Regions from separate parts of the Homo sapiens genome. Here all the other regions are reported to be linked to region 1. Evidence: microRNA targets listed by miRTarBase, many of them from high-throughput screens and not tested one by one. Region 1 holds a microRNA gene; each other region holds the end of a gene's coding sequence. Distances are between the middles of the regions.

What was found. The annotated mature microRNA hsa-let-7i-5p reads UGAGGUAGUAGUUUGUGCUGUU and lies in region 1 at 1,086-1,107, opposite strand. An mRNA with a match to its seed (bases 2 to 7 or 8) in the 3' UTR can be bound and repressed. Matches are read on the target gene's strand: a 7mer-m8 pairs with bases 2 to 8, a 7mer-A1 pairs with bases 2 to 7 and ends in A, and an 8mer does both.
Region 2: miRTarBase lists NUP155 as a target of hsa-let-7i-5p. Seed matches in the 3' UTR shown: 7mer-m8 at 1,801-1,807.
Region 3: the mRNA of ECHDC1 is a reported target of hsa-let-7i-5p. Seed matches in the 3' UTR shown: 7mer-A1 at 444-450 and 7mer-A1 at 817-823.
Region 4: the mRNA of EMILIN2 is a reported target of hsa-let-7i-5p. Seed matches in the 3' UTR shown: 8mer at 1,057-1,064.
Region 5: miRTarBase lists NAT8L as a target of hsa-let-7i-5p. Seed matches in the 3' UTR shown: 7mer-m8 at 1,061-1,067.
Region 6: miRTarBase lists EP400 as a target of hsa-let-7i-5p. The part of its 3' UTR that is shown has no 7-base or 8-base seed match.

Annotation. Positions count from the first base shown.
Region 1 is chr12:62,600,710-62,604,797 of GRCh38, reverse strand. It overlaps MIRLET7I (microRNA let-7i), which reads right to left and starts at 1,112; the gene lies at 1,029-1,112. LINC01465 (long intergenic non-protein coding RNA 1465) reads left to right here and starts at 1,364. Exons shown (of 1, transcript NR_121682.1): 1 at 1,364-3,047. It overlaps MIRLET7IHG (MIRLET7I host gene), which reads right to left and starts at 2,055. Exons shown (of 2, transcript NR_186001.1): 1 at 1,963-2,055. RefSeq lists enhancers at 672-1,193, 1,194-1,715, 1,822-2,011, 2,092-2,201, 1,716-2,237 and 1 more and silencers at 1,042-1,341, 1,432-1,741.
Region 2 is chr5:37,288,150-37,292,237 of GRCh38, forward strand. It overlaps NUP155 (nucleoporin 155), which reads right to left. Exons shown (of 35, transcript NM_153485.3): 35 at 1-3,889. The coding sequence ends at 3,751. Among named protein-coding and RNA genes, the nearest start is that of CPLANE1, 41 kb to the left of the region's middle.
Region 3 is chr6:127,286,073-127,290,160 of GRCh38, reverse strand. It overlaps ECHDC1 (ethylmalonyl-CoA decarboxylase 1), which reads left to right. Exons shown (of 6, transcript NM_001002030.2): 6 at 1-1,449. The coding sequence ends at 292. RNF146 (ring finger protein 146) reads right to left here. Exons shown (of 3, transcript NM_001242850.2): 3 at 1,599-3,545. The coding sequence ends at 2,468. Among named protein-coding and RNA genes, the nearest start is that of RNF146, 21 kb to the right of the region's middle.
Region 4 is chr18:2,912,609-2,916,696 of GRCh38, reverse strand. It overlaps EMILIN2 (elastin microfibril interfacer 2), which reads right to left. Exons shown (of 8, transcript NM_032048.3): 8 at 694-3,630. The coding sequence ends at 3,293. Among named protein-coding and RNA genes, the nearest start is that of LPIN2-AS2, 52 kb to the left of the region's middle.
Region 5 is chr4:2,063,642-2,067,729 of GRCh38, reverse strand. NAT8L (N-acetyltransferase 8 like) reads right to left here. Exons shown (of 3, transcript NM_178557.4): 3 at 1-3,970. The coding sequence ends at 3,603. Among named protein-coding and RNA genes, the nearest start is that of NAT8L, 6.4 kb to the right of the region's middle. RefSeq lists an enhancer at 585-1,198.
Region 6 is chr12:132,077,300-132,081,387 of GRCh38, forward strand. EP400 (E1A binding protein p400) reads left to right here. Exons shown (of 53, transcript NM_015409.5): 53 at 102-3,161. The coding sequence ends at 374. Among named protein-coding and RNA genes, the nearest start is that of SNORA49, 48 kb to the left of the region's middle.

The DNA.
Region 1 (4,088 bases):
CAACGAAAAGTACTAAAACTGACCACTTACTTCCCTCAGTGAAAATAAAATAAAAATACAAGTATCTTGTTTTCCACGCAGACTTCAGGGTATTAGAGCACTGAGTATTTTCATTAGTTATCCAAACTACCTTTTTTCTCTATGCAAAGGTATTTTCCTATTAGGAGTAGTGGCCACTCAGGAATCAAAATGAGTGTTAGTAGATTTTAAACTCAAATCTAGAAACCACTTTCAATTCCTAGTCCTCTTCTCCCATACAAAACCTCAAAGATGTAAGTACCACATAACATTAGAATCAAAGGCCATAAAAACCAAAAAACCAACCCACCACACCAGCAGAATCTGAGCCCCAAGGTTAAACTAAAAAGAAAAAACAAAAAACAAAACCATTCACAGCACACTGTACATAGAATTTATTTGTTTGCCTCATACATTAAAAAATCGGAATAGTGCAATTACCTACAAATAATTTCAATCTTCTCATTCGCGAGTTGCAAAGTTTAAAGAGAAACTTTAAATTGCTTTGGGTTTACGTTTTTAAAGACACACTCAGATTTACTAAGAGAGCATATCAGAAACCAGATCTAAAATGTTAAGGCATAAACTTTAATTATCAGGTCTACTTCTTCTGCCCCTCTAATGCCAGTTCTGCAGATCGCTCACACCACTCCAACCTACAGCTAAAGAATGAAGTAAAACAGGTACACACTAAATTTGGCATTTAACTGCTGAAAGAAGTGTTAGAATTTTTTAGGGTGAAAAAGTTATCTGTATCAATTATCTTACACAATTCCACTCCTTCCTTCAAGAAAAGGAATCCAATGGCTTAGCTCTTTCCCAACCTTTAAAATGCATCGCGGTCCACCCCACTCCCCTCAATTCCTTCTAGGAAAATGTGAAACTAACGGTTTCCGTGGTGGCCGCGCCGGCCGGGCGCCGAGGCTTCGCGGGCTGTCCCCAGGCAGCGCCCCGGAAAACAAAGGGGATTCCCAGCCATTGTCCTCCGCGGCGCTGAGCATCACCAGCACTAGCAAGGCAGTAGCTTGCGCAGTTATCTCCACAGCGGGCAATGTCACAACCCGACCAACAGCACAAACTACTACCTCAGCCAGGGCCATGGTGTCGGGGAGGCACGGGACCACGCGGAGGGCAGCAAAGCGGCTCCGGCGCTCCTCCGTCCTTCCTCGCCGCCGACGTCGGCCCGCCGCCCCTTCTTTTCCTTTGCCTTCCCCCCGCGCCGCGCCCGGAGACCCCGCCCAGCACCCAGCGGCTCGGCTACTCCCGGCGCGCCCCGAGAGCTACGGGGATGAGAGGCGGCGCCGGCGCCCGGGTGATACAGCCGGCGTTCTGTACGTCAGCCACCGCTCTGAAGAGAGAAAAGCGGCGGTGTCCTGCGGAGAGAGCCGCTCCCTCCACTGCCCGAGGGGAGCGCGTCGCCTCAGCCGCTCGAAAGCAGGAAATGGGCGGCAAAAGCGCAGTCAGACACCAACTGGTTCTGGACTGCCCCCGAGAGGCAGCGAGCAGCGCTCCCGCGCTTCGCCCGCTAGGAGCTGCCGCCACGTCCCGAGCTGCGCCGCTCGCGCCCCTCCCTGCTCCGAGTCCCCGGTGGGGGCTGGGCTGCGGCCGAGTCCGGTACCCGGGCCCCCACCCGCGCCGCGCTGTCGAACCCGCCGCCGGCCCGCTCTCGGCGCCGATAATCGCCGGCGGGCATCCCGCAGAGGCTGCCGCCGGCTCCGCCAAACAGCAGCCAAGGCATAGCCGGGAAGTCCCCAGGCCACCCGTTCCCCAGCACCCTTCGGGGAATTCCCGTTCAGCTCTACAGGAGGCGAAAACGGAACAAACGAAAACCCCTTAACAGTGAAACCGGGCCCGGCGATGGCCCGGGTGGCGACTGCGACGACTCGACGCGTGCGGACACAAGACCCGTCTCGCGCTCCGCTGCTCCTGTGCGTCCGGACGAACCTTAGAGATCACTTAAGGAGGCTCGCGCGCTACTCCTCACCACGTGACCGCCCCGCCAGGCCGCCCCCCGCGCCGCCATCTTACATCCGGGACAGAGGCGGCGTCCCCTTTCCCTGCCTTGGCAGGCGTCAGCGTGCTACCAGAAATCAGCCCTGAAAGAGGGGACCCCGATTCCACGTCACCAGAGTGCTGAGGCAGCGGGCGATGCCCTCCATCGGCTCAGCGGGGGGGAGTGGAGTCCCAAACTTTTTTCGGCCTTTGCCCGCAAAGAAGATGGCGGCGCATATCGCCGCCTAAGCGGACACGTTGTACCCTGGCCGTGGTTTGAAGTTTCCGGCACCTCCTTTCCCAACCAGCAAGGACACAACCATACGAGCCCCACCCACGCGGGGTGGCTGCCGTGCTACATTCCGCAGAAAACAGGCGGGAAAGCTGCGGCACAGCCCGCTTTAAACGCAAGCTTTTGGGACTTCTGGTTTTGGCTTTTTCTTTTTAAGCCAAGTTAGGGAGAAGGCTGACTGCCATGGAGCCACTTCTGCTTTTGGCCCAGACAACTTACGGGATTTTTTTTTTCCTCCCATTTAGAGATTTTTTGTAGGAAGTTAACAAATTATTTTAAAGAAGTAGTTAGGGCTTGTCAGATAAAATACAGGACGCCCAGTTAAATTGGAATTTCAGATAACCAGTGTTTTGGCATATGTGTGTTACATATATTTTTAAAATTGTTTATCTGATATTCCAATTTAACTGCACATTCTCAATTTTTAATGACTGTATCTGGCAACCCTATCAGCCTTTACCCCTGAAAATCCAGACTGCTTATGACAAAAGTAAGGAATGGAGGGAAATGAAAAGCATGTTTACCTACAACTTAGAATTGTCTTTGCCCAGACTTTGATCCTTCATGGAGGCCAGAGGGCCGTGGTCTAGAACAAAATTTGGCAGCAACTCATAAAGATATCCTTGTATAATTCCCTTTCTGGCAAAGTAAGATTTTTTTTTTCTTAAGCTATCACGATGTAATTTTGGACAACAGATCCTCTTGGCCAAGAGTTTAATTGCAAATTAAAAATTAAATAACTGGCTTTTTGTTTCTATTCTACATGGTATAGGCGATGGGACCCAAACAATTTCTTAAAGTAGAAGTTTTCAAGTTAAAAATCAGCCTGCCTGACATATTTCATAAGAACATTTTTAGGTGCATATTCAGAAACTATTTCCAATTAAGAATATTTGTGTAAACATAATACATTTGCAGTTAAATGCTTTACCTGACAAAGCATAAACTCACCTATCAATCACTAAGCATAAACTCAAAGCAAAAACTCAATCACACCATAAACTCATCTATCAATCACTTACCAGAAAGTCTGTAGAAACTTCACACCATCCTTCCTTGATAAGCAAAGATTGGACTGCCATGGGAATCAACCCTCACTGCTCATTGACTGCGCAGTGGATCAGATTATTCTGTACCAAAGCAAATGTCCTTTGCCATAATGGCACAGATTTTTAAATGGCCACTAAACACCTGTTTGGTCTATGGTATACAGATTTGTTACAGCAGTAGTTTCCAACTAAATTTAGTCATTATACTACTTTATCACTTACATTCCTTTCCATAATGTTTTTAACAGTGCTAACACCAATATACTCATCATCCACATATAATGTACTGTTACCATCAACTTTTTCTCCCCCCTCCCTGCATATCAGGAATCTTAAGTATCCTTTCTGAATATGACCACCGTTAATCAATTCTTTATCATCACCTCATAGCAAGAAAATTGCAACAGCTTTCTAGCTTAGCTTTCCATACTGTATATATCCTATCCTGCTTATGATTGCAAGTTTATCTTCCTTGGTTTTATAATTTATTCTTAAATCACTCCAGACCCTGCCATCTCAAATCTAAACTACTCTCCTTGGCTTTCAAGGAATTTTATGAAGGGACCCAATCCTTCACAACCAACCTTGTTTCACACAATACACCAAAATGCACTGTTTTCTATTTCACAGATATGCCTTGCTCACATTATCTTGCCTGAAATCCCTCCGTATATCCTTTGAACTCATCCAAAATCTAGGTAGCCATCAAGACTAACTTTAATTTCTATCTTAACCAC
Region 2 (4,088 bases), not on the chromosome of region 1:
TTTTATTCTTAAGAGAATTTAAAAGAAGACATTAATAGAAAATGAAAAGAAATTGTGAACCCTTTCAAAACCTTTCAATTCAATGTTCTAGTTCTTCATTTCCTTGATACAACTCTGTACCATGGTCATAATTTTTCCGTCTCATGAATAGGAGGAAAAATGACAGGAATGGAGACTACCCTGAGGAATACTTTTGAGATCAGTGGATAGGTGTTCAATGAATAAGTCAGGTATACCTAAAGAAACACTAAATGTACATGTACATCAGTCAGTATCTCATAGCATAAACAGTTAGTCAAGATAGCTTTCTCTTTCCTAACCGTTTTGCCATACTACAATGATCTAGTTAAAATACAAATTTCACAACTTCAATGATTCTTCACTGCCCACAATTAACGCACTGTTTCATAGACTATGTTCTACCAATTATACATTGCCTACATATAATAGTCACTATAAAGAAATAATGGACAGGCATGGTGGCTCATGCCTATAATCCCAGCACTTTGGGAGACTGAGGCAGGGGAATCACTTAAGGCCAGGAGTTTTGAGAGCAGTCTGGGCAACAGAGTGAGATCTTTTGGCTACACAAAAAATTAAAAAAAAAAAAAAAAAAAAAGTAGGGGGGGTGGGGCTAGGCGCAGTGGCTCATGCCTGTAATCCCAGCTCTTTGGGAGGCCAAGGGGGGTGGATCACCTGAGGTCAGGAGTTCAAGACCAGCCTGACCAACACGGTGAAACCCCATCTCTACTAAAAATACAAAAAAAAAAAATTAGCCAGGCATGGTGGCGCATGCCTGTAATCTCAGCTACTCGGGAGGCTGAGGCAGAAGAATTGCTTGAACCCAGGAAGTGGAGGTTGTGGTGAGCCAAGATCGTGCCATTGCACTCCAGCCTGGGCAACAAGAGCAAAACTCAGTCTCATAAAAAAGGCTGTGGTGAGCCAAGATTGTGCCATTGCACTCCAGCCTGGGCAACAAGAGCAAAACTCAGTCTCAAACAAACAAACAGACAATAGCAGGGTGTAGCAGCACGTGCCTGTAGTCCCAGCTATTTAAGAGGATGAGGTGGGAAGACTGAGTTGAGCCCAGGAGCTCGAGGCTGCAGTGAGCCAAGATCATGCCACTGCACTCCAGGGCAAGCCCTTGTCTTCAAAAAACAAAAAAATTCAAAAAAGTAATGCGTTGAACAAACACCAAGTACAAAGTATACTAATACAGTGGATAAATGCTACTCCAACTCTGATCCACTGACTGCCAGGATCAGCATGACACTACAGATGGAACTCAAGAATCTGTCATAACAGGCTATCCGGCTGATTGTTCTGAATGTGAAAGTTTTAGAAACACTGTTCCAAGGGTAAAAATGAGGGGACCTAATTTCTTCTCTCTTAGGAATCTTACCCCCCAAAAGGTATTGCAAGCATCTGTTGTGGGGCTGGAATTCCTAAAACCTCTCAAAGCATGCTGTGTGAATAAAAGGACAGTGTTCAGATTTCTGACTCTAACAGACCATCTAACCATGGAAGCCTACAGCCCTTTTAAAACATGTACTTTCAATGTTGTGAGCTGAGTATATATAACAACATATTGCTAGTATGTAAATGTGCTTAAAACAAAAATGAAGTTCTTATCTCTAGCAGAACTGGAGTCACACCTAAATTACAACATTCAGACAAGGCCTTCCTTTTAAGTAGACATGACAGAATTTTAAATTTATAAAACGAATTAATGTATCGCATACATTCACTTTACATATTCAAAAAACGCTAAACTTAAGAAACTGAAAAGTTGAAAAATAAGAGGTAGTAGTACCCACTGAGTGACGTTCTGGCATTCTATTAAATATTCTACATTAGAAGATTATAGGGAAAAGGGAGCTGAATTCTAAGAGAACAAATGTAGAGAAGGCAACCCTATGGTCTTGGGAAAAGACAATAATGGAAGGAAAAATATATTCAAAATGTATTGTACAAATTGTTAGACATGCATCACTTACAATAAACAGAAGGTAATTATTTGTGGTAGCATAAAGAGAGAAGGGAATAGGCCAGGCACATTGGCTCACGTCTGTAATCTCAACACTTTGGGAGGTGGAGGCGGGCAGATCACTTGAGGTCAGGAGTTCAAGACCAGCCTGGCCAACATGGTGAAACCCATCTCTACTAAAAATACAAAAATTAGCTGGGTATGGTGGCGCACACCTGCAATCCCAGCTACTCGAGAGGCTGAGGCAGGCAAATTGCTTCAAACCTGTGAGGCAGAGGTTGCAGTGAGCCGGGATCGCACCACTGCACTCCAGGCTGGGCTACAGGGTGAGATTCTGTCTCCAAAAAAAAAAAAAAGAGAGAAAGGAATAGAGTGTTTTGTTAGCTCTGGTCATTCCCACTCTTCTTCTCTCTTGTTGCTATTACTTTGAAGCATTTGGTTTGGTTATTCTATTTTGTTAAGGAATAATTAAAAAGTACATTACTAACAGTTTTGCTTTATATATTGTGTGCCTTGGGCAAAATTTGTGTGTGTGGTTATTCACAGAGGAGGAGCCAGATAGGTAGCTCAGTCCATAAACTATGGAAGGTAGCAGTATCCTTTACTGCAGTGGCTTTCAAATTTGACATGCACCAAAATCTCCTGGAGAGCTTGTTAAAACATAGAAAGCAGGGCCTCATCCCCCACGTTTTTGATTCAGTAGGTCTGGGTTGGGGCTCGAGAATTTGCATTTCTAACAAATTCCTAGGTGATGCTGATGCTGATGCTGATGCTTCTGGTTTGGAGCACATACTTTGAGAACCACTGCTCTAATGGAATCAGTAGTCACAAGGCCAAGCAGCCAGGTAGACACTAAGGGAAAACAGTACCTCCCTGTGTAGGTTTTCAGGACACAACATTAGTTACAAGTTTTATCACCTGCTCAACCAGGTATATAGCTATGTCAATTCTCAAGGGCTTTAACTGACAAAACCAGTTGTTAGAGGACAGTTCTTTCAAGGGTGAACCCAACACCTAAAAAAAGTTTTGAAAAAGTCAGTTATTTGCCTATTTAAGGACGGTTTTAGAATCCACTATTATGGGAATGGATCTGCTTAGCCTATTTGAGGTTTTTTTGTTTTTTGAGACAGAGTCTCGCCCTGTTGCCTGGGCTGGAGTGCAATGGTGCGATTTTGACTCACTGAAACCTCTGCCTCCCGGGTTCAAGTGATTCGCCTCCCTCAGCCTCCCGAGTAGCTGGGATTACAGGCGCCCGCCACCACGCCTGGCTATTTTTTTTTGTATTTTTAGTAGAGATGGGGTTTCACCATGTTGGCCAGGTTGGTCTCAAACTCTTGGCCTCGTGATTCGCCCACCTTGGCCTCCCAAAGTGCTGGGATTACAGGTGTAAGTCACTGTGCCTGGCCGCCTAGTGGAGTTTTAATGCCAATATCCTTGGACTAACTTGAAAATGAATAATATAAATTCGAAATTTCTGCCTGCAGTACAATTCAAAATAAGAGTTTCTAAATTTTTTTAATCCTTATGTTAAAATAATAAATAATCTCATTTCAGTTGTTTTTTCACCCAATTACTAAAAAACAAAATAGTCATAAAAAAGAATTCATTTAGCAAAGGTACTATTTGTAGATATTAGCCACTTATTAAAAACATATTTCTATTAAGATTGTTCTTACATTCTTAGATTTAGAACACCTGATATCTGGACCCAGCTGAGTTTTTATTTTACAGATCATAAAACGGATGAAAGTATATCACAGTAATTAATGAAGCCGTTCTAATTTAGCTTGAAGAGATTTAAAATTCCCAGTGATGGCTTGTACTGCTACTGACGAGCTCATAGACTGGAGCTCAACAAGGTAACCACAAACAGCATCCAGGCAGAGATTTGTAAATCTTCTCCTACAACGAAAAAGACACATGATTAATTATACATTTACAAACATTTCCTCCTGCAGGACTTCTTCCCCACCAACTTCTGGCAACTTTAATTCTCACAGGAGAGGAAAGACCATGTGATTAAGTAAATAAGAAATAAAGTAAAAAAGAAAACTTGGGTGTAGGTGGGTTCCATTTGAAGATTTTTTTTTTTTTTTTGAGA
Region 3 (4,088 bases), not on the chromosome of region 1:
GTTGAGTGGGGCCCTTAAACTGGATTCAAAAAATGCTCTAAACATAGGAATGGTTGAAGAGGTCTTGCAGTCTTCAGATGAAACTAAATCTCTAGAAGAGGCACAAGAATGGCTAAAGCAATTCATCCAAGGGCCACCGGAAGTAATTAGAGCTTTGAAAAAATCTGTTTGTTCAGGCAGAGAGCTATATTTGGAGGAAGCATTACAGAACGAAAGAGATCTTTTAGGAACAGTTTGGGGTGGGCCTGCAAATTTAGAGGCTATTGCTAAGAAAGGAAAATTTAATAAATAATTGGTTTTTCGTGTGGATGTACTCCAAGTAAAGCTCCAGTGACTAATATGTATAAATGTTAAATGATATTAAATATGAACATCAGAATTACTTTGAAGGCTACTATTAATATGCAGACTTACTTTTAATCATTTGAATATCTGAACTCATTTACCTCATTTCTTGCCAATTACTCACTTGGGTATTTACTGCGTAATCTGGAACATTTAGCTAAAATATACACTTTTGGCTTAAAAATTATTGCTGTCAATTCCAATAATAATTCTTAGCTTATAACCAAAGAGCAGTGTTTAAAAGGAGAGCTTCTATACAAAACCTATTCCTGGCGTTACTTTTCATACAATTTTTGTTCTGTTTTACCTGGAAATAATTTACCAAAATAACTGAGTGTTGCTGCTAAAGAACAAAAGTGGGGAGGTATCAGGGAACAAGAAAACAAGAAAGGGTATGATCAATCATTTTCTTCTGCTCCAAACAGCTGGAGTAAAATTCATGGGAAATGGCCCTTCATTTAAAAAAAGATGTACCTCACTACCCACTACAAATTTGGAACTTTGTTCTTTTCAATAATTAGTTTTCTATTGTAAATTACCTACTAAACAGTGGTAGCCATGACATGGAAAGTCAACTGATTCTACAATTGGACATTCATTTGTGTGCCCTGGAATTTCCAACTAGTAATAAACAACTACTGTTGATGTAGTTTTAAACCACTTGAAGGGACTCATGAAGCATCCTGCAACATAAATTTGCATTTTTACATCAGATTTCTTTTTTTTCCTGAAAAACAACTAACCTTCTAACAACTATCTTTCAAAAGTAAATGTAATAAAAATGCACAACATAAAATGTTTATGATCCCAGCAATACACTTTTTAAAAAATGTGAAAGTCAAAGAATTAAGTTCTAGTTCTGACTCATCACAAGAGGTCAAAAGTATTTGCTACTGTAACATTCAATTCACATTTGAGAATCATGGTAAAAATAACTTGCATTTGCCTTACCATCATGATCCTACTGTTGAGTTAGGAAAATATGGTTAGACAGACTCACATTACTTTTTTTCAGAGGTAAACTCTAGATTACTGTGTCAACCCAATACTATTTGGCCATAGATGTAAAAACTACCAAATAAAAGTGGATTTTGTGGTCTACAACATTTTGTGTAAAGTGAATTCATGTCTGCTAACACCGTTAAGTCTGCCATTTAATCCAGAGTGTTAGACTACTAATGAATATGGTAAGGAAAATATAAAATATTAACGGTATATGCTATTTGAGGAATTTTAAGTCTCACAGGCTTTAGTTTTATTTCCATACATGTTTATTATATACACACTGCCTATAGATTCTGTTTAAATAATCTCTAAGAAAAAAATCAAACTTTTCTGAGCAGGTGATTAAGCTGAAAACAACCAATTAAAACCACCACTTTTTAAGTGACCTTTGGTCACAAATGTCAAAATGTTTCCACACCCTTTCCACCCTCAAACAAGAGACAAACTGTTTTTGATAAACTCTAGTATTTATTAAATTATAAATTTTGTAATCAAAAAGAAAAATGCAGACCAAAAAAACCTCAAACTATAAGACTAGACAGCAAAGCCTATGGGAACACCATGAAGTGTGTTACAAACATTCTGAAACATAAGTTACTGGCTGTTTTCATTTCCATTTCAATAACTTTACTATAAAATAGTTGTTATTCATCTATTTTGAAATCCCAAATTCACATCTATTCATACATTAAATTATGTTTCCTGTTCATAATATCAAACATCTCACAGGTGCCAAATTTTAGTAATGGTCTTATGCCAATCCATGCAGAAAAATAAGACACAATGCAGGAGTCAGATGAGGACCATTAATGCACAGATAATACAAACACACTGGCCAAAAGAACTACAGAAGTTTTTAAAAAGTATAAAGTAAACAGACCTCAAGAAAACTGGGTTATTACTAAACAGCTCTCAACTATTAACACCCAAGTTCCTTACATTAAATAAATTTCTCAACAGAGACATGTTAGACATTTTAATTATGAGTCTATCCTTCCCATACCCCTTCCCACCCCAACTCCCAAAATGCACTACTAGGGATGAGTATAATGTTATGTGGGCAGAAATTTACAGGTAACCCTTTCAACCTTGAGCATGGAGCTGAAGACATTTTTATTTAAACTTCAGTTACTGTGCACTGTCCATCAGGCCTTCTAGATCTGACACTGACACTCACTGTTCCACCCCCTGCTACTGATCGATCAGTTCCCGATCGATCTGATCGATCGGGTACTGTCTGGTTTGCATTAGAAACCAAAAGTCTCTGTTGGGTCAAGGAGTGCTGTGCAACAACTGCAGATACATCCTCACTATCACTACTGGCATCTGATTCAGTTTCTTCAATGGAGGTGTCTGGTGCTGGTACCCTGCCTGAAGATGGTGATTCATGATCTTCTTCTCCTTCTCCCCTATGACTCCTTTCAGCTGTGTTGTCTCCACTGAGTTGTAAATGAGCAAAAGAGTCTTCCAGAGAAGTGCTTGCATCAGGGGATGGTGTTGCAGGGCTTGTTAACTGACCATCTACTGATGTTAGGGGCCTTACAGAAGACACTAGGGGCTGAACAGAAGCTCCACTCTGTGCTGATACACTGTCCGCTCCGTCAGCAGAGCTCTCTCTTGCTAGGTTTACGGTATTAGCATCACAGTCTAGCCTAAGTCCAGCTACTCCCTTCTTTGGTATATCTATTATATCTCGCTTAATCTTCCTGCGACGTCCATGTTCATTTCTCCTATATTGAACCATGTTTTCAAGATCAGCGACATACAGAAAGCCAGCAATTAACATTTCAGTGTTCTTTTTACCTTTGGAAAAAGCATCTTCCAGCTCTCTACTAGTGCGCTCATCGTACTGCCACCACCCATTTCTTCCTTCATAATACCATGCATATTCACCATTTCCTCTACTTGCTGCCTTGAGTTCTTCTGGTGACAACAAGGTTGGCTTGTCAAGGAAATCCTCGGGAATTTCTTGTCGACAAAGAGCACACCGCTTTCCAAGCCATGAAGCTCCTTTTACACATAGATAGCAGAAAACGTGCTTACAGGGCAGACTGACTGGATGAACACATGTTTGCAGACAAATGGCACATTCAGGGACGGTTAAAGAAGGTGCAGTATTAGAACAGGACTCGTTCGCTTTCCTGTTTGTAGGAAGCATGTTTATTGAATGATCAATTTCACCACAGCCAGCCATCCTAAGAAAAAATACATATAATATTAAAGTCATGTTTTAATTCTTGCAATATCTTAATTTAACAATTATGAAAACACTAACCACCTATGATGTGCATTATATGCAAGCCACATACTAGACAATGGGGATATGAAGATGAAAGTAGAGGAAAAACTCTCCAACCGATGAAAATTTTTTGTAAGCATCTACTTGTACATACCTTGGGAATGTATAAAAATTCCATCAGTGCACTTAACAGATCAGCCCTGGAGAAACACACTGAAGAACTATATAATGAAAAGCTGCATCCAGTGAGGGGAAAAGGATACCTTGAATCATGGCAGCTATTATACAGTGAAATGAATGCTAGACAAGAAATCTAAAAATCTGAGTTTTAGAGTCCTTTATTAATTATGTGCTCTTAGGCACTCAGTTAAACCATTAGTCTAAATTTCCTTACCTGCAAATCAGAGTTTACAAAGCTCAGGTAAAAATGGACAAAAAAAGTGCTTTGTAATCACTAAAGCTTCATAAAGGTAACAATCATATAAGACCAAAGGAGAAA
Region 4 (4,088 bases), not on the chromosome of region 1:
AATTCCCTGGGAGTCCTGTCCAGAGCCCCTGGACACCCCACCTTTCCTTAAACCCTTCCTTAGGGTGGGTATGATTTAGCAGTCAATCCTGATGTTTTCATCACAGAGTCAGAGTGACCTTTGATCAAAACCACATCGCATATATTACTTACATGGTGATGTTTTGTCCTCTCAGATTGCTGGGCCCTTACCAGATGCAGCATATGCTGAACCCTGCATCCCAAAGGCCCTCCACAGGAGCGTGTGTTCAGGATGGAAATGTTTGTTTGCATGACGTGATGGCAACCATGGGTCTTTGGGAATGCAAAAGAAGAGCTCAGGGAAATTGGTTACAAAGGAAATGGTCTTTACCCAGAGCAGCTTTGAGGGCTTCAGGGGAGCAGTGAACTTTGCATACCTGAGCTCTGAGGACGTGCCTGCGTGTGGCTTCTCTCTGTTTTGCCCCGCACCCATTGGAGTTGGCATGTGTCCTTCCATTTTCTTTCCCGTTTATAGGATGGCATAAGGAAAATACACATTTATCTTTAGAAAGGGGCTGTGGTGTGGATTGGATATGTGCAAAGCTGGGTTTCCAAGCTTACAGGCATGAACGAAGTGACTCCAATCACAAATACTCCCTGTCAAGCTGCAAATACATAAACTGTGAGAAAATTAGTCACCTGGGAAAGCTAGATTAACATGCCAACCAGGAAGTAATTTCAAATGCAGTTTAAGGTTTGCATTTATTGACGATACCATTTTGTTTTTAATCGTGTAAATGAGGCCATTTGTTAGTGTTACATGGAGGTTTGGAGGGGATGTCACAGTCCTTCTCTACTTAAGAAGTGTCCTGACCTTTTCTCAGCAACAACTTGATATCAGAAGTTGTGAACTTGGCTGGGCGTGGTGGCTCATACCTGTAATCCCAGCACTTTGGGAGGCCGAGGTGGGCGGATTGGCTGAGCTCAGGAGTTCGCGACCAGCCTGGGCAACACGGTGAAACCCCATCTCTACTAAAATACAAAAAATTAACCGGGCGTGGCGGCATGCACCTGTAGTCCCCGCTACTCGGGAGGCTGAGGTAGGAGAATTGCTTGAACCCGGGAGGCGGAGGTTGCAGTGAGCTGAGATCGCGCTACTGCACTCCAGCCTGGGCGACAGAGTAGGACTGTCTCCCCCCAAAAAAAAAAAAAAGTTGTGAACTTGTGCCTGATTCTGTCTCAGGGTTTGGTATGCCTCTGACTGACTCGCAGGCACTACTTCAGGGGTGATGACTTCTTGAAGGGCTGCTTCGAACCCCACAGCCTTAAGCTCAGCTGACCTTGTTGTTCTACTACCTGTACAAAAAGACAGCCTTTCCCTTTCTAAAGATGTCTCCTAAGTGGGCCAGGATCCACCTGTCATCCAGCTTTATCTCAAAGTAGAGGCACGCTCCAGCCATAATGAGGCATATTCTGTTTTGCCTGTCTTGAATACACAGAGCTGAGATTCACCATTGTTGGTGAGTAGAGATGCACTGAGAGGAGGACTGGGTTTTACCCGATGTTCCAGACCCATCTACGGAGTAGGGAAAGCAGCAGGTAGTCATCACCCACCTTTTGCCTGGGCCCTGCCCCTGCAGCTCTTGAGCACGTCCCCTTGGGCGCCGAGTGCGGTCTTTTCAAAAGGAGCGTGAGAGGAGAGGAGAGGGCGATGGCGCGTGCCCACTGGGTTTTCCTGAAAACACTGCTGCACTGGGGCGCTTTCCATGAGTCATTCCTAGGACAGCCAAGGATACTCTCTGACAGCTCTCTTTAGCCAGTTCCCCAGCTGTTGTAATGGGGTGAGATGCCATTCTCCCTCCCGCTCCTGGACAAAGAGGTCCACATTTTAAATAGTAAAACGGCAAACCTTTAGTTCTTGCTGGTCTTCCTAGCTGTGGCGGGGGGAGTAAATAAGGAACTCTGAAGTGTCCAGTGGCCACCCTGTAAATTCATTTGCAAACAATTCTTAAAGCATTTTTTTTACAGCATAAGAGCATCTTGTGGGCCAAGGAAACTGCAGCTCTTGATTCTACCGTCCAAACCTTTCCCCAGTGGGACTTGATTAACCAGTAGGTGTTACCAACCTGATCCACAGAGACTACCTTGAACTAAGGGTGCTGAGAGGTCTCCGTGGCCACTGGTGACAGATTGATACTCCCGGGCCTCCCCTCAGTGGAGGCGTCTCGCTGTGTGAAGATGCCGTGTTCTCAGATGGGCTCAGCTGTCAGCGTGTGGCCAGCGTTAGGTTGAGCTTCCTGCTGCTTAGAAACCCAAGAGCTCGGCGAGCTGTGTCTGCTGGAGATTGGTGCAGTGAAGCAGCAGGGATCAAGTTAGCCTGGGCAGCTGCTGTGGGATCTGAGTGCAGCATCCCCAGAGGAGCCGCTCCAGCTGCAGATGACATGGGGCCTTGACCTCCGTGCACATCTGGTCCGTCTTCACAAGCCAGAAACAAAACCCAAGTGTATAGCTTGGATGCGGAGGGGTAACAGTTTTGTAGCTGAGATTAATTTTACTCAAGGTTACTTTCTGTAGCCCTTTTTGAAACAAAACATTTCTTCAGTTTGCTTTTTAGCAACAACTCCCGATCTGTAAGGGACCACACTTAAATTAACAAAAGTTAACTGGAAATGGCTTTCCATCTTTATTGACACTCCCTGTCTTTGCACTTAAATTGTACATGCCATTTAAGGAGCCCAACAAGCTTTGGGAACAGTCTCTAACGCATCCCTATTTGCAGCTGGGCGAAGGCCCGCCTGAGCAGGTTAAGTCCCAGGCGGCAATGGTGAGCCAAGCGTGGAACAGCCCAAACTAAAGTCGGGGTCTCTGTGCGGCGGCACGGGCCACTTCGGCACTTCAGTGTTTAAACTTCTGCATGCAGTGTAAAGACAGACAGCTGGCCACAGTGCTGCCCTGCAGTAAAGACCAGCCACCGTGACCGGCTCTCCCCTGCCTCCCTCCTCCCAGCCCACAGTCAGACGGAGCCTCTGTGGCAAGCTCAGGCCCAGTCCAGGGCCCTCAGAGTGTAGATACAGGTGGAGGCCTTTCCAAGTCTTCCAGTTGTCCAGTTAGAGTGGCAGAAAAGTCAGTGGCCATGTTCACCGTGTGCCTCACTCCCTGCAGCCTGGCTGGATGCAGTAAGGCATGGTGGCCTCAACAGCGAGGGAAGGCCTTTATGTTGGGGCCTATGTGGAAACTCTAGCCCCGTGCTTCCATTACATACAAACCGAATATATTAAAGCTTTAGAGTTTTTACAACTATCTATCTTTCCCCTGACATCTCCCCAGCCACCTTAGAGGTGGGAAAGGAAAGGATATAAGAAAACCCCACTAAATGTGGAGTACATTTCATCAAAGTCTGTGTGAGCCAGCTTGCCCCCAGTCACCACGACGTTGACTGCATCTCCCGCCTTCAGGTGCACGATGAGGTGGAATGCCCCCGGGCCCCCGCAGGTATGCAAAGCTCCTGGAGGGCGGTGGTATTCCAGGAACTCTCTCCTGTACCCAGCGGTATGCAGCTGGGCCACGCTGGCGTTGGAGACCGACAGCACTGCTTCCACGTAGGCGTCTCTCTCGGGGGTGAGGGTGGCCGTGATCAGGTAGCGCCCATCATAAGGAGCCGTGAAGACCCCTGCGGGGAGAAAGGCAAACCCTGTGCTCACCTGCTGTCGTCACAGCCCTTGCCATGGTAGTAAGTGGCCCCCCAGTGATTAACCTGGGCCTGGGAGACCAGCCATCTCTGTCTTCCCATGGTAGCTGGCTGCCTGCCTCAGCTGCTTTTTATGCTCATCCCCTACAGCCTACCCGTGATGCAGAGGCCACCTTAGCCCATACCACTTTTTGCCATGGGCCTAAGAATGCCTCTTGGAGGCATTCCTTATTGGAAGCACCTAAAGGCTAAAGTCAGCCTCAAAGCTTGGCTGCTGGGCAGAATACCCGGGAGGCAGGGCCAATAAAAACGAAGCTTGCCACCAACCCAGGGAGAGGCAGACATGGCACCTTGTAACCCCAGGGGCCATGCCAGGCTCCTCGTGGAAGAGGCCCATTCTCCCCATGCTGGGCAATGGCCAGAAGTGAGCACTGATACTC
Region 5 (4,088 bases), not on the chromosome of region 1:
GGCACTGACAGGAAGGTGGCCCCACGAGGGCCCACACAGCCCCCTGCCCGGCGGGGCAACCACCTTCGGCCCCCACAAAGCCCAGGCGCCAGCAGAGCCCAGGAACCCAAGTTCCCAGCCTCAGGCCACCAGCACAGCCCTGGGTGCCCCAGGGCAGGCGGGCCTCTCAGAGGGGAGCCAGGTCCCTATGGCCCAGAGAGCTTCCCCAGCACCTGCCACACAGCCAGGAAGCTCAGGGCGTCCCCAGCCCGTCGTCCCCTCTAGGGCCTGCAGCCTTCTGCCATCTTCTCTGAGAAGGACACCCAGAGCAGGAGAGGGGTGGCCCCAGGACCTCGTGGCCTCAGGCCTGCTGTCCACAGGGCCTCCCAGGCCCAGCCTTCCCCCAGGGCCAGCCATCCACCCCTCAGGCCAGACTGACCCAGCCCTTGGCCCCTCCCTCCGGGGGCAGCTTCTCACCTGCTGCCCGGCCCCAAGGCATGCCACCAGCCGGAAGCAAGGCTGGGCATGGGGCGGAGGAAGGAGGAGGAGATGCCGCCACGGCTGCGGGGCTCAACTCCCTACGCTCAGGAGCCCTTCTGGGGGCCAGACCACATGGCAGCTTCAGCACAAGCAGGCCTCCCACCCTCAGGGACCAGGTCTGCAGCGACTCACACCTGGGCAGTGGCAGCTGCCTGGGGCCACCCCACCCCCAGCACAGCAAGACCCGTGGCTCTGGGCAGTGTGGGGCATCCCGAGGCGCTTCAGCCCTCAGCTGCCCGGAGCCTCTCGTCAGGCCTGCAGTGCTCGTCCAGTGAGGATGTCCTCCTTCGCCCAGCTCTGGCCCCAGGCACTGTCAGCCCCTCCCGCCTTCCACGCCCCCCACTCCAAAAACAGAGGCTTCCAAACACACAGAAATCCCAGGAGCCCCAGGCCCCTGAGCAGTGCTAGGGCCCGGCCTGGCTTTCCCCGGGCCTCACCACGCAGAGTTTGAGTGGTGGGTGCCCATGGGGAGCGGGCAGGGGGCCAGCACTCGGGGAAGCCGCACCAGCCACGTGACAGCAGGGCCCAGGAGGGCGCTTCAGAGGTAGAAGAAGTTACATCAGAGTTTCTACAAACGTATAAAATTCACGTCAGTGCACATGTGCAGAGCAGTGAGATCCCAGGCTGGAGGGATGAGGTGGGCCAGGTCAGGCCCACCCACCAGGCACCCGGCCTCCAGCCCCGGGGGAGGACACACCTACCCCCCAGTGGCCTTCAAGGGCGCCACCAAGCTACACATTGGCCTGGCAAGGGTTCCGGGCAGCTCCGCCCCAGCCTGGCAGGCACACCAGTGCCTCTGCTCACCTCAGGGGCGGCAGGGTTCTGCACACAACCACCCCGCACACCCTTCCTGCCATCTCTACCAAGTCCTGGCAGCAACAAAAAAGGCCAAGCGTCTCACCACCCACAGGGCAGTGCAGCCAAGGAAGAGGTCACTCACGGGCGCAGATGCCACCAGAATGAGAGAAGGCCACACTGCCCAGGACTCTCAGAACCCCCAGGAGGGGGATCTGCTAGGATCAATATCAAGGAGACACTGGCAGTCCCTGGGCCTCCAGGCCCTGCCCTGGCGTCGGTGGGCTCCAACAGCCACCCCCAAGCACCCTGCACCCCAGGAGCCCGAGGCTCCAAAGGCACAGGACCAAGGGACGCTGGCAGCACCCCGACATGACACCCCCAAGACCTGACTCCACCTGGCCCGCCCTGCCCCTCCTGCCCCCAGCATGCCCCGCACCAACTGGGACCAGCCCCAGGCCAAACCCAAACCAAACCAAAAGAGGAAAAAGGCACAACTGTTTGTTTCCATTTTGCTAAAACACTTTACGTCTGTCTGTATATTCCAGATTAACAAAATCTGAGCTGCAAGAAAATAGGGTGCCGATTTCTGTACAGTCTACAAAACTCCCATCCCCAAGCGGGGACCGGGCACCTCCAGGGAGGAATGTACAGGGGAGTGGGGTCTGTACAGTGCTCTGCACACCTCAATTGCTAACAGGACAAAAGGCCCTTGGACGCAGGGCTTCTCTGTCCCTTCGCTCGCTTCTGAAGCGCCTCGTGAGAAGCATCCCTCCATGGCCCTGCACGTGGCCTTGATGCCTGGGACCCAGTTCCGTGGCCCACCCTGCCTGCCACGACCCCTCCCCAATTCCCCCACACAAAGGGGTCTGGGCAAGTGTTTATTCTTCTCCTGCCACCAAAGCCAGGTCCACTTCTAAGCTGAATGTGCAGCCTGTGCCACCCTCCACCTCTGTCTCCCCTTCCAGGCCACCCCCCCCGCCCCCCGTCCAGGGCAGCCCCTGCCTGTGACCTCAGGAAGGAGAGACCAGGAGCATGGCCAGCGGAAGCCGAGGCGGCCACCCCTCTTCCCACCCAGCCCAAGGCAGCGCCCTGCCCCTCCTCCCGGAGGCTGCGGACTCCCTTGCCCCCCACCCTGCCCACACTGCAGGCCAGGGCTGGGAGGCGTGCTCCATGGCAGGAAATGACATCCAATCAGGGTTTCCCTCCAGGTTTCCAACAGCAAAACGCTCCACCCACCCGGCCACCCACCCCCATCACACTGGGCCAGAAACTGTGTCTTAGGGTACAAACTACCGTTTTGTCCCAAGAATTAAAGTCATGCAGAGTGCTATTCTGTCTAAATAACTTATTAGAAAATGTGTTGGTTTCAGGCTGGGAGAAGCTGTGGGCTGGGCGCTGTTGGCAGCAGCCTGGGCTGATAAGATTCACAGGGTGGACCGTCAGCCAGAGGCAGGAGGTCCCCGGGGACATCTGGGAGAGGCCAGCACGATCCAGTGGGCACTGGGGAGAGGGGTCCCATGGACCCCCACCCTGGCTGTGCCACGGACGCCATGGGAGTCACCTGGGTGATGACACCAGTCAGCACAGCCCAGGCAGGGGAGGGGCCGGAGCCAGAGAAATGGAGGGCGTCAGAGCAAAGCAGGTGTGGACAGAGCCGGGCGGCGCGGGGCAGACCAGGCCCTCCAGGAGGTGGGGGCAGGGGCAGGCCCTCCCACAGCCAGCTGGGGGCTGGGGACAGGGGCGCTCACCAGCCCGGGTCTCCGGGTCCAGTCTGGGCAGGGCGGCAGGGCGGGGCTGTGTGCATGCGGCATGCTCAGCCGGGCCACACCCTCGGCATGCGCGGAGCAAAGCAGCGCCGTGGCCAGCTGGGGCCTCCACAGGCAGTGGCGCTGGGGCCGCAGGCGGGGCCGGAGCCTGGCCCCGGGATCTGCTGCAGAGGTTCTGTGCTTGGTGAGCAAGGCTGGGCCTTCCCCAGTGGCGGCGGGCAGGGCAGCGTCATGGACAGCCGCGGTGGTCCAAGATGCCACTCTTCAGGTGGCAAGCCGCCCAGGCAGGTGGGGAAGGGCGAGGGGCTATGGCGACAAACAACCCACCCCCACCAAAGTGTCGCCGAAGAACAACAGCCCCGCACCCCCCGGAACCAGCCAGACAACCGCAGGATGTTGAAAAGGGGAAACCCAACACAAACGCCAATTGAGCGTCTGAAAGCAGGCCGCGCCGGGCGGCGGGCAGGCGGGCAAAGGCGGACAGGGCGGCCGGGGGGGCGGGCGGGCGAGCGGCGGCGGTCACTCCTCGCGCAGCTGCAGGCGGTAGCGGTGGTAGCGGACCTGGAAGAAGAGGCGCTCAGCCAGCGAGAGGGTCATGCCCGGCAGCACGTAGTGGTCACTGGCGCCCATGTGTCTGAAGCCCAGCGACTCGTAGAGCTTGTGGGCGGCCACCTTGACGGCCGTCGTGCCCAGCACCACCGCGGAGTAGTTGTGCACCACGGCGAACTCCAGCACCTTCCGGCCCAGCGCCTTGGCGATGCCCTTGCCTCGGAAACGTGAGTCCACAGACATCCGCAGCAGCTCCACCGTGTTGTCCTCCTCGTGGGCCCGTGCAGCCACAATGCCCACCACGTTGCCATCCAGCACGGCCACCCAGAAGCAGGAGCCTGCAGGGGATAGGGCGGTCAGGGACACCCGGTGAGGAAGGCTGGGGAGACCCCTCCACCTCTGGGGTGAGACAGGGCCCTTGGCACTGCCCCCTCCAGCTGGACACCAAGCCAGGGC
Region 6 (4,088 bases), 69 Mb from region 1:
GTGAAGTTTCTCGAGTCCTCCCCATCCCAAAGAACGTCCATTTTCCTGTCCCTGGACTGAGTTTCCTGGGCAATGTGTGTTTTCTGACTCTCTCGGCTCAGGCTTCTCCACAGACTGTGGCGCTCACGCAGGCGACGGCGGCCGGGCAGCAGGTGCAGATGATCCCTGCAGTGACCGCGACTGCCCAGGTGGTTCAGCAGAAACTCATTCAGCAGCAGGTGGTGACCACGGCGTCGGCCCCGCTCCAGACTCCAGGCGCTCCCAACCCAGCCCAGGTGCCCGCCAGCTCCGACAGCCCAAGCCAGCAGCCCAAGTTACAGATGAGGGTCCCTGCTGTCAGGCTAAAGACACCTACTAAGCCTCCGTGCCAGTAGTCAGGGCAGCAGGGCTGCCTCTCATCTAAAGCAAAACTACCTTCCTCACAGAAAACGCTTTATTAGTGAACCTTGGGACCATGTCACGCAAGAGATTCAGCACTGGGAAAGATATAATTGAAACAAAATAGTGTAATCATTTTATTAAAATGCATCCCACACTGCAGGACAAATGGTCCTTATGGAGTGCCGCGTTCTCTGTACTACGTGGCTCATGGAAAAAGTGACAACATGGCTTCCTCTAAATCATTTCACCTTTCAGTCCCCACCCGCACCCGTCCCCTAGAGCCATAGTACTGTGTTCTGAAAGCCATTTAGAATTTCTTTGTGAGCATGTAGTGCTTTGCACGCCACAGAAGCCGTCTGCCGTGTGTGAGGAGCATACAATGGACTTTCTAAAGATAAGGCGTGGGCTTCCACAGTGTCTGCCAGAGTTTAGTTCTTTATACCTTACTGAAAAATGCCTCGTGGTCTTCGCAGAGGGGAAGGCCTGTCTAAAGTCAATCATCCGAGATGGGTTTTCCATTCCAAAGAAAGGCAATATGGTTCCTTCCTTCCCTCCTAAAATATGACTTAACTTTTAAGAGAAATGTTCTGACACCCACCTAAACACACAAGGCACGTTCCTGGCCTGTGTTCAAGGGAAATGATCAGTCATTGCATTGTTATTCCAAAGAGCAGCCAACAGTGGCCTCCCCCAGGCCCTACCCTGCAATGGGATTCGCTTTCATTTAATGGAAACTTCTGGGACTGATGCCCAACTCAGTGCACTCAAGACGCATCTCCAGTTTTCGGGGGAAGCTGGTATTTGACATAGTGTGTTAAACAGCTCCTGAGAACCTTTGGGACACTCTGCCATGGCTGGCGTGAGGCCCAGAGGACCACGCAGAGGCAATGGTAGTACAGATGTCACAGCTGAGGGTACGATGAGGCCTGGGCTCAGTGAGCCAGGACGAATGTGACAGACACCCCTTGCTGCCACAGTCAGCCCTTTGACGAAGGTGGGCTGGTGATTCTGGAAGTATTGGCTATAGCGGTGGGCCCAGTCAACTCTTCCTTGTGGACTTACGACAGCAGATTTTCTCTAGGATAAGCTTGTGTGGTTCTGCCAGTGAAGCAGAGAACCACCTGTGCTGTTGTGGAAGGCGTGCCGTTGAGGGGGAAAACGAAGCCCAGTATTTGCTACTGTTTTTCCTTTTTTTACTATGACAGGAAAATAAATGCAATTTTAGTGGAATTGATTGACAGTGTCTCCTTACTTTGAAGTTTTCACCAAAGCAAAAAGGTCCATATCCAATAGTATCCTTTGTGCTGTGGCTTGATTTTGGCCTATTTTACATTATTTGGTCCAGGAAATTAGGTTATATTAGGTTTTTTGTATACTAAAAATCAGTTATGGCACAATAAAGATTTTCTGTTTTTAAATTGTATTTCATCTGCTTCCTCCCCATTCTCTCACTTTAAGTGACATTGAGGAAGGTATTCTGTCCCACAGGTTTCTGTGGACAGCGATACAGCAGGAGTCAGTGAAATCAACTGGGGAGCTCACTTGAGCTCTTGATAAGAAATGTGGAGAAAAGTAAAAACCAAGCTTTGAAGAAACAGAAGAAATTAATCTTTTAGTTAGTTGAACATACCAAAGCAGAGGACTGGAATCTGTTTGTTCTAACCAACCCGTTCTCCCTGGCTTGGCACGTGCCGTGAGAGCGCAGCTTGCCGGAGGGAGGGCCGCTGTGTGCGCCTCACATCTGGCTCCCAGTGGAAACTTTTACTCCTCCTCATCCGCAGATGTGATAGAACTGAAGTATCTAGGAATTCTGCCTTTGTCATTTGTTTTAATTTGTGTGCCCTGTTCATTTTTTTTGTCTTTCCCAAATCTTGGTAGTCTCCTTATAGTTGAAGATAAAATGTTGAGTGCACTTATTTTAGAATATCCTAGACATAACTGTCTAAGTAAAAGCGCTCTATTAATCTAAAACACTACAAGAGAATTTAACACCATCTCTCAAATGCTTTTTTGGAGAGCTTAATGGGATTCTGAATATTTGCAATGTGGAGTTTCCGCCCCGATCTCACGTCAGTGAGGGTCTCCTGTCTCTCAAGTGTGTTTCCTTTGGCTGTTCCCTAATACAAAACACGGACATATTTTTACTCGTAGCACTCAATTTAGTAACTTCTAGATGCTACCGTTGACCTGAGTTAAATTCATTTAGTCGTGTACGTAAAAACTCTCCTTTTAGTGTGTTATTTTCTTGGCCTTCCCTTTTAAAGGTTAAAGTTTCTAACCTAAGAATTAAGTACGCGTTCAGGAAGCTGTTGTCTAGGCCTTCCCCTTGTGAATCTGGGTTCATTCCAATACGGCAAGTAAGAGTTGGAAACTTTGAGAACACAGACTATAAAGGCAGCAGCCCGAACACTGTCAGACTCTAATTGGCGACCCTGGGAAACAGTTGCCCTGCTATTCTTTAAAGAAAGACGTTTATTCTGATGATAAAAACAGTTAGCCAGACTGTTTTTAAAGCACCTGGCGGGAAGCAGAAGGTTGGATCCAAGCCCTTGTTCAGATTTGGTGCCTGATAAGACAGGGGTTTCTCTTTTTGTGACCTTTATTATTATTATTTTGTTAACTGTTGTAACCAGTTAGCTGTTGTGTTTTAAGATAGAAAGGAACAAGACTAAAATTGTAAATACTTTGTAAACATCAGCATTTGTACTTGAATAGTAGGATTTTAAAGGGCATTGATAGCATACCAAACAAAAGGCAAAATAAAGTGACCTTTTTATATATTTTTTCATTTTGTCTTTCATAGAAAACTGGTATTTAAGTTAAATGAGATGCTGAATTTTTCATTTGTGTGAAGAAAAAACCAACAAGTAATGTTGGAGCCAGAGGTGTTCCCCTCACCCACTCTTCCGTGGCCATAGAAGGACCTGGAAGGAACAGAAATCACATTCACCAAGTCCACCAGGCAGCCGCTTCCCAAAGCCGCACGTGGAGGAAAGAGCTGGCACCGCCCTGCCCCATGTGGCCTGCCACCCTCACAGCACCCGTCGTCAATGTCCTGGGGGCCACACTGGCACCAGTGTCCTTCCACACCCAGTCTGTGTGCCCAACTGGCACCAGTGTCCTTCCACACCCAGTCTGTGTGCCCAACTGGCACCAGTGTCCTTCCACACCCAGTCTGTGTGCCCAACTGGCACCAGTGTCCTTCCACACCCAGTCTGTGTGCCCAAGTAAGGGCAGGGACACCGGCTCACAGGTGCTCACCACCGAAAACGCCTGTGAGCAGATGGCCTGCGAGTTGTTGCTTCTCTTTTTCTTCTGCTTTTAGACTTTTCTTCGTTTCGTTTTAAATCTGATTACAAAAATCAACGTACACTTTTAATTGAAAACGCACACATTACGCAAAGTAAAGAAGCATCCCAGAAGCCCCTTAGTTTCTGTATCTTTTCTCCCACCACAAAAACGGGGGTGCACGGGCACTTGGCCCTGCAGCTTTGGGCTTCCACCTCCGGTCTTCCAGATTGAAAGCTCCCAGGGTCTGGTTGCACACTTCGTGTCTGCAGGTGATAGTGCAGATACCAGGGTGGGCGAGAAAGCCAGCTGCAAAGCCCGGCTGGTGCTCCCTGGCCTCTGGGGGTCTGTACTGCAGTGCCTGGTGCACCTGCGGCTCCATGCCTACCAGCCACATAACCAGGGGCAGGTGACTTCCT